2 separate regions of the Homo sapiens genome follow, and region 1 is linked to region 2. The links come from fine-mapping of genetic effects on gene expression. A gene starts in region 2. The other region holds a variant in brackets. All regions are shown on one strand. Distances are from middle to middle.

Region 1 (8,607 bases), 20 kb before region 2:
CCCTAGCCAATAGGGAAACAACACAGCAGTAGGGGCTACCTGCGACAGGAATAAGAATCCCTTCCCCTCCCCTGTCCAGGTGTGCTCTCACCATTACTCCATTCACGAGTCACATCCTCCTATAGAAGTAAAAATTGCCTTGCTGAGAAAATTAAATTTATGTTCCAGTGCTATTTCCTTGCGGCACCGAAAATTTATTTGTAACATTCTCACAGAATCAGAAGTAAGGGAGTAAGAGTACAGCTCTTTATCTCTCTGTAACACCATCCTAAGCACACTGGCTTTGTGCCCTCATGCTTGTCCCCTCAAGATTGAAGGTTGCTATAACTCCAGGCATCACATTAAAGACAGGAAGAAGGGGTCCCTGCAACCACTGGCTCCCTGGTACCACGTATCTCTTTCATAAAACTTTCCCAAAGCCCCCAAGTAGACTTCTCTACATTTCACTAGTCAGAAATAGGAATCTAGAAAAACATAAGTATGTGGCTCTATAATGGTAGGTGGCCAGGGAAGAGAATGTAGGTAGGAGCTGCTGGGTTTGCCAAACAACAGGGTGAGCTAGTACATATCCTTATTGTTTAAGTTAGGCTTTCTGTTACTTGTAACTAAAAGCACAGCAGGCCAGGTACGGTGGCTCACACCTTTAATCCCAAAACTTTAGAAGGCTGGGCTGGGAGGATTGCTTGAGCTTAGGAATTCCATACCAACCTAGGCAACACAGTGAGACCCCCATCTCTACAAAATAAAAATTAAAAAATTAGCCAAACATGGTGGCATGCACCTGTAGTTCCAGCTATTTGGGAAACTGAGGCTGAAGATCACTTGAGCCCTGAAGGTCAAGGCTGTGGTAAACCATGACTATGCCACTGCACTCCAGCCTGGGTGACAAAGTGAAACCCCATCTCAATAAAAATAATAATAATAATAAATAAAAAATGAAAGCAGGGCAATTAGCTCTGTGACAGTTACTATTCTATCTGGCTACTATTACTATTCTATCTGGAACATTCTGTCCAATGTGGTAACCACACATGGCTATTTACATTTTAATTTAACTAAAATTAAATACAATTAAAGGTTCAGGGCCGGGCGCAGTGGCTCACGCCTGTAATCCCAGCACTTTGGGAGGCCGAGGTGGGTGGATCACAAGGTCAGGAGTTGGAGACCAGCCTGGCCAATGTGGTGGAACCCTGTCTGTACCAAAAAATACAAAAATTAGCCGGGTGTGGTGGTGGGTGTCTGTAATCCCAGCTACTCAGGAGGCTGAGGCAGGAGAATCACTTGAAACCAGAAGGTGGAGGTTGCAGTGAGCCGAGATCATGCCACTGCACTGTAGCCTGGGTGAAAAAGTGAAACTCCATCTCAAAAAACAAAAATACAAAAAACATAGCTGGGTGTGGTGGCACACACCTGTAGTCCCAGCTACTCGGGAGGCTGAGGCAGGAGAATCGCTTAAACCCAGGAGGCAGAGGTTGCAGTGAGCCGAGATCACACCACTGCACTCCAGCCTGGGCGACAGAGCAAGACTCTGTCTCAAAAGAAAAAAAAAAAAAAATTAAAGGTTTAATTCCTCAATTCCTCAGTCACTCTAGCCACATTTCAAGTACTCCATAGTCATACGTGGCTAGTAGCTATCTTATCTGTGGAGTCCTAATTAGGAACAGGAAGTCACGCTGGCAGGGCCGAGGGAAAGCAACAACAGACATCAGATAAACTATAAGTCTGTCTTTCTTCATGGTCCAGGACACACAGTGCTCCTGTGCAAATAACTTACAATCTTCCATTGCCCAACTATCACCAGACACCTGCAAGTTAGCTCACTGCAACCTTAGTGTTTTATCAGCACTGCACGTAGCATTCTGCAGCCTAAGAACCATCCTATAAAATCCCCAGCAAGACTTTGTTTCCTGGCAGTCAGCTCCTCTTCTGCTGATTCTGACCGTTGCCCTCTTGTAACATATTTTCCTATTTTCTCTAATAAATCCACCCTTCTCCACCTACAACTGTCTTGGTAAATTTTTTTTTTTTTTTTGAGGTGGAGTCCCGCTCCAGTTGTGCAGGCTGGATTGCAGTGATACAATCTCGGCTCACTGCAACCTCCAACTCCCAGGTTCATGCAACTCTTCTGCCTCAGCCTCCCGAGTGGCTGGGATTACAGGCGTGCGCCACCACGCCCAGCTAATTGTTGTATTTTTAGTATAGACGGGGTTTCACCATGTTGCCCAGGCTGGTCTCGATCTCCTGACCTCAGGTGATCCACCTGCCTCGGCATCCCAAAGTGCTAGGATTACAGGTGTGAGCCACCGCGCCTGGCCTTGGTAAATTCTTTTACCCCCATGCCACCAGGATAGTCACTGCTCACCCACAACATTTTGGTGGCCTGTAGGGGGAACTCTCTCTGGACGGGAACTGTCCTCACAGGAAACTCTCTCCCCTCTCTCTTTCCCTTTCTCCAGTCAGCACCCTCCGAGAATAGCCTCTAAGCATGGAGGCAACTGCAGGTCTCCGGCAGGAGCTACACTCTGGTGGGACTGAAAGGTGACTGTGTGGAAGCATCTGACGGCCACTGCCCAGATTGGGTGAGGGACCTGGGTTCACTTACTCTTTTCAGTCTTTCAGCAGCTGGCTTCTTAACCATCCTGGTGCTCTCCAGTGCTGCCTGAAGGCCAAAGGGTGAACAGGGCTGGCTGCCTTGCCTGAAGGGAAGAAGACTCTCTCTCCTATCTGGCAGCAGAAGCTCATCCAGAGTGAATTCACACACGTTTGGGGTAACTCAGGTGCTCTCTTTCTCACTCTACATTCTCCTGTGGGGTCAGCCAGCCATCCTGTCTTGGACATTGCTAAATCAGGTGACCTCGGACAGCCTCAAAATGGTGAGGGTTCCCTTACCCACTCCCTCTCCTGGGCGGGCACCAGGTGAGATCACCCTTTACCCTTTTTTCCTCGTACCTGGGCTGATCACCCAGAGTGAGTACCTGGACTGGCCGTCCAGCGTTAAGGCCCCTAGCAGCCAAGTGCTCTTTTCTAATAGGTGGAACACCCCTTTGGAAAGTGCACCCAAAGTCCCTCAGCAGACACAAGTGGAACCCTCTTTTCATCTTGGCAGGATGTCCCAAGAGAAAGTGCAATTAGTGCCCTGAAGTGGCACCGCTCCCAAGCAGCATGTTTTCCAGTCCCACCATGGGACAAACCCCATCTATCCTTCAAACTCACCTCTGGGCTACATTCTAAAGCATTAAAACAAATTTAATTCTCAGACTCTCAAAAAAGAGAAATGTGTAATTTTCTTGTGTAACACAGCATAACCCTTATGCAAAAGAAATCATCAAATTAAC[T/C]TCCTCAGTCTTTTATAACCAAGAGCAGAATAAGGAGAACAGGGCTAAAAAGAAAGACGCAGAGACAAAAACCAGGCTCAACTGTTGGCTGCTTCACAAGACCCCAGCCCCCTCCTCGTTGCCCTAAGGACACTCCTCCAGATAACTGCCACCGGTGCGAAAGGCCAGGCCACTAAAAGGCAAAGCACCTCAACTGAATAAATGAAAAAAAGTCCCACATGCTTGCCCCCTCTGCCACAAGCTTGGCCACTGGAAACAGGACTGCCCTGAGAGCCAAAGGAGCCCCCCCGGACAGAATCCCAAACCCCAGTGGCCTTAAGCTAAAGAGGCTCTCTGCTCCTGCTAAAAACAGCTCACCTTAACTGGTAACTTGCAGAGGTGAGGAAGAATTCATCTCACACCATAAAGGTCTGGGGTGCTAAGGCTCTCCCTGATGGGAGAGAAACAAGGGTGTTAGGGGTATTGGCCCCACACCATTCAGTGGCTGAAAGGGGGTAACCCAGGCACTCTCACACAAACTTTACAGGAGGCACACAAACTCTCCTGTAAAGTTTAACCTTTTCCTCTCTGTTCCTTTCTTTTTTCTTTTCCTGTTCAATCTAGGGGTCCAGATTGAAAAGATGGTTTCCAACATCCTAACCTCTGATTTTATTGTTCTTTTTAAAACTCCAGCTAGTTACATATTATGGCCTGTTTTGTGCACATTTTAAACTAATGGGCAAACTACAATAAGAAAAAGTCAGAGCTCAAATGGTTAACCTGCACCATAGGGTTAAGTAGAATCATCTAAAGTTCTCTATCTTCCTCTTTTTTTTCTGTCTGCTTTAAATTTACTGTTACCAAGTTGCTGGTGCTGAGATAAGACTCGTTATTTATGATCCAACTAGAATGTAAACATTGGAAACTCATTTAAAGTTAAAGAAAAAAAGGTAAAAGAAGTTTTGTTAAACAAAGAACCTAGAATTTTTTTAACCTTCCTTAAAAGTTAGTAAGTCCAATACCTCTTTTGAATCTTTCTTTTTTTTTTTTTTTTGAGACGGAGTCTCGCTCTGTCACCCAGGCTGGAGTGCAGTGGTGCAATCTCCGCTCACTGCAGCCTCTGCCTCTCGGGTTCAAGCAATTCTCCTGCCTCAGCCTCCCGAGTAGCTGGGACTACAGGCACACACCACCACACCCAGCTAATTTTTGTATTTTGAGATGGGGTTTCACCATGTTGGCCAGGATGGTCTTGATCTCCTGACCTCATGATCCACCCACCTTGGCCTCCCAAACTGTTGGGATTACAGACATGAGCCACTGTGCCCGGCCGTTGAATCTTATTCTTAAAGCTAACTCTTTTTATTCAGTTCTACTGCAGGCTCTCAGTAACTCTCCAACTACCTCTCTTAAGCAGCTTCACCCTCTTAATATTGATGCTTTTATAAGGGAAGTAGTATACAATTGCTATTTGCAAGGAAACTTCCAAGATTACTGCCCAGACAAAATTTCTTTATATTTGTCCCAGTAATGACATATACCCCCACACCACAACAACAATGTGCTGAGGTACTTTGCGTTTAACTGTTTTTCTTATACTCTTTACAGCCCTTCTTCTTTCCTGTCTTCCTGAGTTTCCTGTATATTGTCATTTTCCCTAAACATGGCTCTGTTTTTATTCGTCTATCATGGCTAACTATTGTCTCAATGGCTATACGCAGGCATCCACTCTACTCAGTAACATCACAGGTTGCTAACATAACACACAGCACTAACTGCTGGATGTGCCCTCGCAAACAAGCACTTGAGGATGACATTACACTCTTAGCAGTCCCATGATCTACAGAAGAAATTGTTAAGCCCAATACTCTGGATTAGACTATACCGTTTACATGCACACCAAAAACACAGGTCTAGGAGAGAGACCTGGGCCAATCGATCCCTCATGGCAATCATCCACCGTGACAAAGCAAATAGGGAAGGCACCAGAAATGGCCTGTAAGGCTCACCTCTGCATCAGAAACTCCAAGGGGTCTGGCCCTTTCCTAGGGGCTTTAACACAAGCCCATTATAGTTACATCATTAACTATAATCAAATGTACCAGGAATGGTAGCCAAACAACAACTCTAACGAGTTCACTGTGTACCTCTGCAGGTTTTCTCTATGGTTGGGAAACAACAAAGTTAATGCCAGCAAAATTTAGAGTGATTCCTTTATGCCTATAAATGGTTCAGCAAATGGGACAGAATACAGAGGAACAAGGGTCGAAACTGGGCAACTTCTTAACCTCACTAATATGTCTATATCTGTTCCTCAATTTTCCCTTATCCCATTAATATTTAAAAACCTTATTTGTCAGGCCAGGCCCCACTTCTCCTGCCTATAATAATGATTATACTAGTTTATTTGCACCTTGTATTGTTCATGAAATATCTTGTTTTGCGTCTTCTAGAATACAACTTCAAACCAAAATGTTACTGCAGCAAGGGTATCAGCCAGTAAAAGAACTAATGAATCCCCTTTGGAGCCAGCAGAACAAAATTTGAGGCTGCAAATGCTGTTCCCCTAAGGTCCCACAGCGACTCTGCCTAATTTAACTCCCAACCCAGGGACTGAGGCCCATGTAACCTCCTGACCGACTAACAATCCTAGGTAGGGCCAACTCTACGTCCCTGGTCAGCAAGAAGGTGAAGGTGAGACCTACACTCACATGCCAAAGATTTGTCATCGCTGCTCTGTCAGTGGAGGAATGTGGAGTCCTAATTGCAGAAAAGAAGTCAGGCTGGCAGGACCAAGGGAAAGCAAAAACAGACAACAGATAAGTTGTAAGTCTGCCTTTCTTCATGGTCCAGGACACATAGCCCTCCTGCACAAATAACTTACAATCTTCCTTCACCCAACTATCACCAGACACCTGCAAGTTAGCTCACTGCAACCTTGGTGTTTTATCAGAACTCCACGTAGCATTCTGCAGCCTAAGAACCATCCTATAAAATCCCCGGCAAGACTTTGTCTCCTGGCAGTCAGCTCCCATTTAGTTACTTGCTCTAATAAATCTGCCCTTCTTCACCTACAACTGTCTTGGGAAATTCTTTTCTCTGCACGCCACTGGCCCAGTGGTCGCTCACCCCCAACAATATTTGACAGTGCAGATCTAGAGAAAGTTTTGGAGAGTGCAGTTCCACATAGAATAATAAGCCAGATGCAACATCTCAAATATTATTTTTCTACTCAGTGGAAATTTAGCCTTCAATTCTTGTGTGTGAGAGTATGAGGGCTGTTTCCCCAAATTTTGGAGTGCCCCAGGAGTTGGGTATGTCCATGCTCCATCCTATTCCCACCTCAGAGAATCATGCTGTCTTTCTAGCCTGCACAAATCTAAGACATAAGATGAATATCTGCAGTCAGGAACTAAATTCTCGTGGAATTACTTCTGTGGTGCATTTTGATATAGAATGTGGGGTCACAGGTTGTGATGAGCAAACCCAGCCCATATCTCTCCAAGCATTCCCTGATTAGTGCCCACAGTATTACAACTGGAAACTAGTTTCTTGCCCCATAGCTCCCACATAAATACATTAATTTTAAGTTTCTATCTACTTGTTCCCTTGAAAACTAGAGCAAAGGCCTGCAAAACCAAGGTACGCCCAATAAAACCGCCGTTGACCTTGCAAAGCAAAAATGAAGAAAAATTTCTGACATGATTTCATGAAGCAACGTGGTTTTTTGTTTGTGAAGGGAATGGGGAAAAAGTCTTTTTTTCTACAGATCTGATCCCTATTTGACTAGCTGTTGAGAATTTTCAATACAGCCAACTTTAAAGTCCTGTTTCCCTTGATATTCATATTAGGACTTCACTCACCACACACTGACTCACTCTTGTCCCTTCACCAACCAGTACTTCAAAAGATGCTTTTCATTAAATTCTTCATTACACATGGAACATTTCACTATGGGAGAAAAGCAGAAGCAGGACTCCTGGGAAGTTTAATTACACTAATACTGCTTTATGACTTGATGTTTACAGGCTTAAATTAATACAGGACTAAAATAACTTGTATCTCTGTGACCTGAGGATATAGACACAGATTTTCAAAGAAAAACCAAGGTAATAAGAAGAACATTAATTTTGAAAAGTATACATGTAATTCTCATAGGAGCATTTTTTAAAAGCTCCTTACAAAATATGAACTAATGTCCTTATATTTTCAAGACTTATATGGAGAAAAAACAAAACTTTACTTAAAAAAAAAGTATTTTTAAAATACTAACATGTTTCTGGTTTGGGCAAATTCACTATTATAAAATGTCAAGTCCTCCCATGTTAATGAATTAATGTATATTTTCAGCAAAATTTCAATTTATAAAAAATAAAATGTTTAAAGAAATTAATGAAGCAGCTGTCAAGGTTATCTAAAAGAACACATAAGCCAGAATTGCAAAGATATTTTTAATAAAAAGAGAAGTATCAAGAGGGAATCTTCTTCCAGGTGAGGCTTAAAGGATAAAAGTAAATCAAATAAAACAAATAAATAAAAGAGTAGAAAAGGGAATCTTCTCTAACATTTTAAAATACATATTTATAAAACATTAATTTTTTTTTTTTTTTTGAGATGGAGTCTTACTCCATTGCCCAGGTTGGAGAGCAGTGGCAAGACCTTGGCTCACTGCAACCTCTGCCTCCTGGGCTCAAGCAATTCTGCCTCAGCCTCCTGAGTAGCTGGGATTACAGGCACGCACTGCCACACCTGGCTGGTCTCACCATGTTGGCCAGGCTGGTTTCAAACTCCTGATCTCAAGCAATCCACCTGCCTCGGCCTCCCAAAGTGCTGAGATTACAGGCGTGAGTGACCGCCACCGGGCCTATAAAACATTAAATTGTTAAAGTCAGGTACTAACATGAAAGTAAGCACATCAATGGAACAAAGTAGAATATCCAGCAATAAATATATATAGTATAAAAAGCAGAAACACATGCCATATGTAATAAAAGTGGCTTTTTAAGTAAATTGAAAAAGAGTGAATCATTTGGTACAACTCACTAAACATCTGGAAAATAAGTTAAATTCCTACTTCACCCCATGTGGCAGGCCAAGTAATGAATTCCCCCAAAGACATCCAGATCCCTATCCCCAGAAACTATGAATATATTACATTACATGGTAAAAGGAAGTTTACCGATGTAATTATCATTACAGACCATAAGCTAGGGATACTATCCCTGGATTATCAGGGTGAGCGCAATCTAATGACAAGAACTCTTTGACTGTGGCCCTGTGGCCAGAGTCAGACAGG
Region 2 (8,607 bases):
ACCATATTAGAGAAACAGTCTGGGGGCCAGATTATAGATGGCCTTAGTACCTGGCCAATGAGTTCAGGCCAATGAGTCCCTAGAAGTCATCAGTGATTGAGCCTCCAGGTAGAGTGGACCTTCATGGGCAGAAGATGAGCTAGTCTAAGGGTGAGCAAAAATGATTGCCCTGGTGGCCACAGCTGAACATGAAGGATGAGCCCATCCAATGTCAAGGCTGCTGTCTGAGCATTCTTGCCCCAGTGAATGAAGATCACCCAATATAGTGCTATAATTCTCTATATTTTATGTGTTGTGCACTACTGGCCTGGTTTCCTCCAAAATCCATCACTGATTTTTCGGACTGGGAATACTGCCCTCTTTCCAAGTGCTAGGAGGACCCAGTGCTTAAAAAATAAAAAATCCCAATCAAAATGTTGCTGGAACTTCAAAGACAGATATAGCTAAACCCAGAGTTGGCTTGGCTCCAAAAGACACACAGGGAGTCCCACCAGCCCACCAGGCTCACAGGAGCTCACACAAGCATGCTATGGTGAGCACAGGGCAGGTACTGTGAGGCTCAGCATCTAAGCAAAAGATGGAATTGATTCAGGTAAACGGAGTCCAGGGTATCTTAGGCAAAGGTCATTCACATTTCCAGATTTTCAACAAAAACAAACAAGGCAATACTTATGCAATTTTAGACCAAGAAAAATGTCTGCTCTGGCAGAATGAACCTTGCTAACCTAAGGAGTGACCAAAGGAGTAATCACTCTTGGCTGGGCACTGTGACATTTTTGTGTTCCAAAGATGCCTGTTTATCTGGCTCAATACTTTCTTTTTTAAAGGTTAAACTTAACCATTCTCCCCATCGCTGTAACCAGCCCGACTATCAGTCTTTGCTGTAACTGTTACAGTGTCATCTTTGCTGCCCCAAGTCTTTCTTTCCTGTAAAGATTTCTTAACAAGGGTGCTTTTGGCCTTGGGAACCTCAGGCAGCACTCCAAGGAAATTTGTTTTAAAAGCAATGAGCCTGCGGTCACTCTGAGGGCAAAGCACTGACATGTCAGCCCCACCTCCCCATCTGGAAATGCAGTGGAGGGTTCATTCCTTAAGGTCAAGAAAACCAACACCACATACTTGATAATGGCCAGAGAGGCCCACACCTCAACCTCCACTTCAGTTCTTAAAATCCTCCTCTTCAGATCACTTTACCTTCCCCAAACAGGAGGACTGCAGGCTCTACTTGGCTGCTAAAATAATCTTCATCCCCAAAAGCAAAGATAAAATAATGAGGGCATATACTATAGAAATGGGTCTTTGGTAGTAACTTCAGGAAAACAGAAGCAACCAGCAAATAGAAGTTTAATATTTCCACAAGGCCAGTCTCTATTTGGTTCCTGAGAGCCATGGACTGGGAAGTCAAGAGATAAGTTGTCTAATCCCAGATCTAACACTAACTCGTTGGTAATGACTAACAAGTGATGGCCTTTCTGGGCCTTAATTTCTTCATCTATAAAATGATCGTGGTCCAGCTCTTGATTGCAGCTGTGAAATTCTGAGACAAGACCCAAAGAATCCTTTTAGAAAACTATGAATCCAAGGCTGCAGTAGGGTTGCAGCATCTTCCCTTCTTCTTCCTCAAAAAAAAAAAAAAAAAAAAAAAAGAACAGGAGCTATTATGCCCCTACCTCCCTAGCATTTACACCAGGCCCCACTGGGATCCATGCAGGAGGCCAGCTCTCTGTGGACACATAGCCAGAACCAAAGTAACCAGAAGCATCTGCGGTCTGTCTTTGTAGATGGTACTGGCTTGAACCACACAGCCATGTCCTACAGTATTCTATCACTCAAGTATGAATTTCAGTCTACTTCATCACTCCTACACCAAGTCCTCACTTCCAAAGTCAACTCCCCTGTGAAATGCTGACGGTCTCCTCATACTCTGGGAGAGCGGCGGAAACAGAACCTGCAGTTGCCCCATAAAGCTGGTCAGTCGGTCATAAAGTGAAGTTAACAATTTATGACCCGCTTTAAAAAAAAAAAAAAAACATAGAATGGGCCGGCGTGGTGGCTCTGGCGTGTAATCCCAGCACTCTGGCAGGCAGAAGCGGGTGGATCACTTGAGATCAGGAGTTTGAGACCAGCATGGCCAACATGGCGAAACACCGTCTCCACTAAAAATACAAAAATTAGTCAGGCTTGGTGGCGCCCCACCCCCGGCCCCCCGTAATCCCAGCTATTTCGGAGGCTGCGGCAGGAGAATCGCTTGAACCCAGGAGGCGGAGGCTGCAGTGAGCCGAGATCGCCTCATTGCACTCCAGCCTGGGTGACAGAGCGAGAATCCCTCTGGTGGGGGGTGGGGGGAGGGAATAGAATGGAAAATATCATTGTGCCTCACCCTGTAGAAAGAATAACTATACCATGAAGCTCTTGCTGCAATTTTACATGTGTATGTGTGTGTGCGTATATATGTATATATAATATTACACACATATTATGCATATATACATTATATACATATAGGTGGGTGGGTGTGGGTCTTGATCGAAAAAAGACCTAGAAACCCATACATAGGCCAGTGGCAGTGGGATGCGACTCTGGGAGTGAATGCCACACACACCTATCCCACCTCTACCCACCCCCCCACCCCCCGCAGAGGATGCAAAAGCCAACAAAGAGCATATGAACTCAAGCACCTATCCTGCAATCCTACAAAACAGACCTGCCTGGAAAACAGTTGAAACAAACTCCTGACCACCGTCCCCGCCCTCCAACACACACACACCGTAGTACTTTTTTTTTTTTTCTATAAAGGACCAAACAGGATGCCATCCGGATAACAGCCTTATATCAAAAAGGATCCTGGAACCCAAAACGCTCAGCACGAGGGAGCAGGAGCGCATACCTACGCTGGGAACACAAGGCTTTAATCCCAGCTATTCCTTCCCGCATAAGGACTAACTGAGCCAGCAGCAACTGGGTTGGAGCAGATAGGGGAACTAGAGACCTCAGAGCCCCATTCTCTTTCTGCTTCTTAAATTTTTTTTTCTTTTATTTTCCAAATTGCACACTTCCATAAAAATTTTCCTAGGAAGCACCAAAGCTTTCAACTGCCCAGAAACACCCCGATCTGGGAGAAAAGGTGGCTTGAGCTGCACCTCAAAGATGGGCTCTATCTCAGCCGGGTTGCAAGTGCACAGGGCTCCCCGCGGGACGGAGACAGGGAGTTGGGAGGAAACGCAACGCGCCTCCCAGGCAACAGACTCCGAGCTCCGGTTCGGAAACGCTCCGAGGCAGAAGCAAGGGCTTCTAAGGGCTCCGCTTCCCAGCCTTGGGTCCCTACTACTACCTTCCCCCTAGACTCGGTGAGCCCAGGCTGATGGACCGTGCAGTCCAGTTTGAGCCAGCCCAGCAGCCCTCAATCGGGCGGGCAGGGAAGAAGGCCTCCTACTGCCGGGAAGAGGCCAGCGCGCTCCAAGTTCCCCGCAAATTCCGCCCTTCCCGCCTGGCACGGTTCCCTTGCACCGCTGTGCTCCGCTCCCAGGTTTCTGCCCGCCAAGAATGCTTGCCCCGGGGGCGCGCTCGCTGGTCAGGAACCTGTCGGCAGCCCCCGGGAACCCCTGAGGATGCGGAGGTGGGCCCGAGAGCTGCGGCTTCGATGCCGGGGTGGGAGCTAGGCAGGCCGCGCGCCGCCGCAGTCCTGTCGCAGCGCGTGCCCTGGTCCCTCCGGACCGAAAAGGCCGAAGCCGTCCCCCGCGACCGACCCCGCGCAACTGGCTCGGGTCTGCACCTAGATGGCTGTGGGCCCCACAGGGATGGCCGGGCGGGCCCGTTCGGCCGCTACCTCAGGGTCGCCAGTCCCCGCGCGCGGCCGCCTCCCGCCAGGAAGGGTGGCGGGCCCGGAAGGCCAGAGATGCCCCAGTGCTTCCCGCGCCGCTACGCACCTAGCTGCCCGCGGGTCCCACATGGCTGCGGCCGGAGGGTCCGCACCAGGACCGCCGCCGCCTGGGGAAGCGCTTCCCTGTGGGCAGGGCGCGGCGGGCAGTGCGGAAGCCCGAAAGCTACCGGAGCCCGGGGCAGGGGCGGCGCGATGCAGAGGCGGCGTTCGGGGGCCCCCAGCTGCCTGCGGCTCGGCTACCCAGCCGCGATCAGAGGGGGCGGGGGACGCAGGAACCCCGGCGTCCGGGCGGTGTGCAGCCGCAGACCTATTCCAAGTTTCCACGTAGTTGCGAGAGCCCAAAAACTGTCACGTGCACGTCGCTGCTGAGTGGGAGGAGGTGTTTGTCATCGCGTTCAAAAGGGGCGTTTCGGTGTCTCCCGTCATGCAAGCAAATGGTATGGCTCTCGGCCGCCTTTGAATAAACGAGTGCTTCGAACCCTTTACCAGGAGGGACTAGGCGCACAACCACCTCCGACACTCCTCGGGCATGCGAGAATTCGGCTTTCCTTAGTGGGGCCCATCAATGTTGTCCGGGAGGTAAAGAAAGTGATCGGCCAACGGCCTCAGCGTGGGTTTTCTCCTTCCCTCGTTCCTCCCTCCAACAAAGGACGTACGGAGAACAAGCCCCCTAGCTCCTACAGATGAGGAGCTCAGGAGTCGGGCGAATATCAAGTACTTACTGTGTGCTTGCCCCTCCACTCTGGGGAGGCTGGGGGTCCGGGAGTGAAGGGGGCAGCGAGACCGCGGGCTGCTCCACGCTCACCGTCGTGTCCATGGAGAGTAAGTGCGCACAGGCCTGAGCAGGCAACAAAATGAGGATCTTGCCTTGTCTTTCCACCTCCCCAGTGATGATCGACAGAGTAGTGGGTCGGAGAGGACCACCTCTGGCTGCTACCTCCCCAGCGGTTCTCGGCCTAGGGAGCCGGTTTGGTCTTCACAGCTTCTCTGGGCCTGGGAGTACTTTCCTACACACCAGAGAATCCACCCAATCAGAGAGCTAAGCCCGCCGCCCTCCCCTGGGGCAAGGTTCGGCCTACACTGCATCCCGGTGGTTCGCCCATCCTTCTGGGGGACCACCACACCAGGCTGCCTGGTGGCAGGGAGGACACCACCAGAGCTTTAGTGAGGGGGACCACACATTTCAGCGAAACAGAGAGGCTTTGGTAACACGTGGACACACCTAAGGCACACAGTATACTTCTCTCCACTGGTCATTCTGCGTTGTGAACTAGTCTCAGTCTAGCTAGTGGTCTCCTTGCTTCTAGAATCTCACAGAGATTTCTGTGCATTGATCTTCCCCAAACATCAGGATGAATCACGTACAGTTCAAAAGCCATCAGTGGCACTCCATTGTCTCCTAGAGATCAGGTTAGGTACCCGGGCATTTGAGATTCTTCTTCACAATCTTGCCCCACATTTCCAATCTTAGCTTCCTCATGCAAACTCTATACTGCAGTGCTTCCCAACCTTAGTTACACAATAGAATCACCTGGGGAGCTTAAAAACAAAAACAAGGCCGGGCGGGTGGCTCACACCCGTAATCCCAGCACTTTGGAAGCCTGAGGCAGGCGGATCACCTGAGGTCGGGAGTTTGAGACCAGCCAGACCAACATGGAGAAACCCCATCTCTACTAAAAATACAAAAAAAAAAAAAAAAACCCAAAAATATGCGTATGTTTGGCTTTTACTCCCAAATTGTCTAATTGACATGGGCGTCAGGAATTTTTGTTTTTGTTTTTGTTTTGAGACAGTCTCACTCTGTTGTTCAGGTGATTCTCCTGCCTCAGCCTCCTGAGTAACTGGGATTACAGGTGCCCGCCGCCTTGCCCGGCTGAATTTTTTAGATTTTTAGTAGAGGCGGGGTTTCACCATGTTAGACAGGCTGGTCTCAAACCCATGACCTCAAGTGATCCACCCACTTAGGCTTCCCCAAGTGCTGGAATTATAGGTGCAAGCCACCACACCCAGCCACATCAGGATTTTTAAAAGACTATAACATGCTGCAAAGTTTGAGAATCACTGCTAGCCACCAAATAGTTGGACTACTTGCTATTTCCCAGACATCATTGGTCCTTTCACTTTTAGGATACTTTCCATATCCTTCCTCCAATACTTTTCCCAACATCCCCCAATTCTATATTTAGGAAAGCACATGCCACCTCTTCTAGCATACCTCTTTCTGTTGGTGATTTTTGGGTTTGTTCAGTTTGGGTTTTGGTTTGGTTTGGTTTTGGTTTGGGGTTTTTTGGTTGCGGGGTATTTTTTGGTTTCGGAGATATTTTTGGTTTTGGGGTTTTTTGTTTTTCTTTTTGTTTTGGGGGGTTATTTTGTTTTGTTGTTGTTGTTGTTGTTATTTTTGCCAACTTCAAGGAGTCTACTTCCAGAAAGCCTAGCCAGGTTCTTACATCAAAGAGAGCAAGCCAAGGGATTGGTGAAGAGAGGAGGATTTAAAAAAACCAAAAAGTCCGTTTACACTTTGACCACTCTTTCACTAGTTTTCATAAGCATCTCAAAATCTTGTTGTCATACATCTTCTTTGGATATCTTCACCATAATCCTCAAAAGTCACGTCAGTATGTTATCTTTCTTTTTAAAACTGTTTCTTCTCTGTCTTCTATTTTTATATTTTTATCAGTTATACATTCACAGTTAAAAGAGCAGGCCTCAGCCAGGCGTGGTGGCTCATGCCTGTAATCCCAGTATTTTGGGAGTCCCAGGTAAGCAGATCCCCTGAGTCAGGAGTTCAAGACCAGCCTGACCACCATGGTAAAACCCCATTTCTACTAAAAATACAAAAATTAGCTGGGCATGGTGGCGCATGCCTGTAATCCCAGCTACTCTGGAGACTGAGGCAGGAGAATCGCTTGAACCTGGGAGGTGGAGGTTGCAGTGAGCCGAGATCATGCCACTGCACTCCAGCCTGGGTAACAGAGCGAGACTCCATCTCAATAAACAATCATAAAAATAAAATAAAAAATAAATAAATAAAAAGAGCAGGCCCCTTTTTCCCTTCCACCTGACTTCTTCCCTAGAAACAACCACTTTTACATCTTTCAGCTGATTATTTTGATGCCTATGCTCATGTCTCTAAATAACGTTTGTATTGCTACTTCTTGTTGTTGGGGCTTTTTTCCCCTCAGTTTTATGCATGATCAGGTAAAATTTTTGAGACTGTGCTTGTCTGAAAACCTTTATCCTTAATATAGTTTGGCTGGGTATAAAATTATCAGCTAGAAATCATTTTCTACCGGGCGTGGTGGCTCACACCTGTAATCCCAGCACTTTGGGAAGCTGAGACAGGCAGATCACCTGAGGTCAGGAGTTCAAGACCAGCTTGGCCAACATGGTGAAAACCTGTCTCTACCAAAAATACAAAAATTAGCCAGTCGTGGTGGTGGGCACTTGTAATCTCAGCTACTCCGGAGGCTGAGGCAGGAGAATCACTTGAACCCAGGAGGTGGAGGCTGCAGTGAGCCAAGATCATGCCACTGCACTCCAGCCTCAGCAACAGAGGGAGACTTTGTCTCAACAAAAAAAAAATAGAAATCATTTTCCTTCAGAATTCTGAAGCTATTACTTCAGTGACTTCTAGCTTCCAGTACTGCTGTTGGGAATTCTGAAAACATTCAATCATCAATCTTATCTATTTATTTAGAGACAGAGTCTCGCTCTGTCACCCAGGCTGGAGTGCAATGGTGCAGTCTCAGTTCACTACAACCTCTGCCTCCTGGGTTCAAGCATCAGTCATCAATCTTTTTATAGGACCTCTTCTTTTTTAAATCTCTGGAAGCATGAAGAATCTTCTTTTCCTCCCCAGTGTTTTGAAATTACACAATGATCTGCTTTGATGTGGGCCCATTCATTGATTCCACTGGGTACTGCGTGGGTTATTTCAGTCTCAACACTCAAGCTCTTCAGTCTGGGAAAATATCTTGAATTATTTTATTGATTTTTTTTTTCCATTTTCTTTCTCTCCCTCTCTCTTTTTAATCCTATTATTCAGGATATTGAACTTCCAGGACTGATCTCTGTGATACAGTTGCTTAATTTTCAAATCACTTCTCTCCTGTTTTCCATCTTTTTTTTTGTTTTGTTTTTGTTTTTGTTTTTGTTTTTGTTTTGAGATGGAGTCTCGCTCTTTCGCCCAGGCTGGACTGCAGTGGCACTATCTTGGCTCACTGCAAGCTCCACCTCCCGGGTTCACGCCATTCTCCTGCCTCAGCCTCCCGAGTAGCTGGGACTACAGGTGCCTGCTACCATGCCCAGCTAATTTTTTTTGTATTTTTAGTAGAGACGGGGTTTCACTGTGTTAGCCAGGTTGGTCTTGATCTCCTGACCTCGTGATCCGCCCACCTCGGCCTCCCAAAGTGCTGGGATTACAGGCGTGAGCCACCACGCCCGGCCCTGTTTTCCATCTTTTTTGGCCTTTTTTGCTGTAGTTTCTGGGAGAGTTTCTCAACTTTATCTTCCACTTCTTAATGAGTTTTTTGTTTCTGATATCATACTTTAACTTTTCCAAGAGGTCTTTTTTATTCTATGAGCATTCGTTTGTTGGAGTACCCCATTGCCTTTTCATGATTGCATATCTTTTATTATCTCCTTGCAGATGGTAATTGGGTTTTTTTTTCCTTTTGCATAGGCTCTATTCTCCATGATTCTTTTTCTGTTTCTGTGTTATGTTTTGT

Evidence for each region. PIP is the estimated chance that this variant, and not a neighbour inherited with it, causes the effect.
Region 1: its variant is fine-mapped to the expression of TRANK1 in monocytes (TOPMed, PIP 0.94).

The regions. Positions count from the first base shown.
Region 1 is chr3:36,921,241-36,929,847 of GRCh38, forward strand. The region is part of intron 1 of TRANK1 (tetratricopeptide repeat and ankyrin repeat containing 1); the gene reads right to left. Among named protein-coding and RNA genes, the nearest start is that of TRANK1, 20 kb to the right of the region's middle. RefSeq lists enhancers at 2,258-2,759, 2,760-3,259. The variant T/C (reference allele first, on the strand shown) is at 3,336.
Region 2 is chr3:36,940,861-36,949,467 of GRCh38, forward strand. TRANK1 (tetratricopeptide repeat and ankyrin repeat containing 1) reads right to left here and starts at 4,194. Exons shown (of 24, transcript NM_001329998.2): 1 at 3,927-4,194. The coding sequence starts at 3,949. RefSeq lists a silencer at 3,842-4,061 and an enhancer at 4,292-4,361.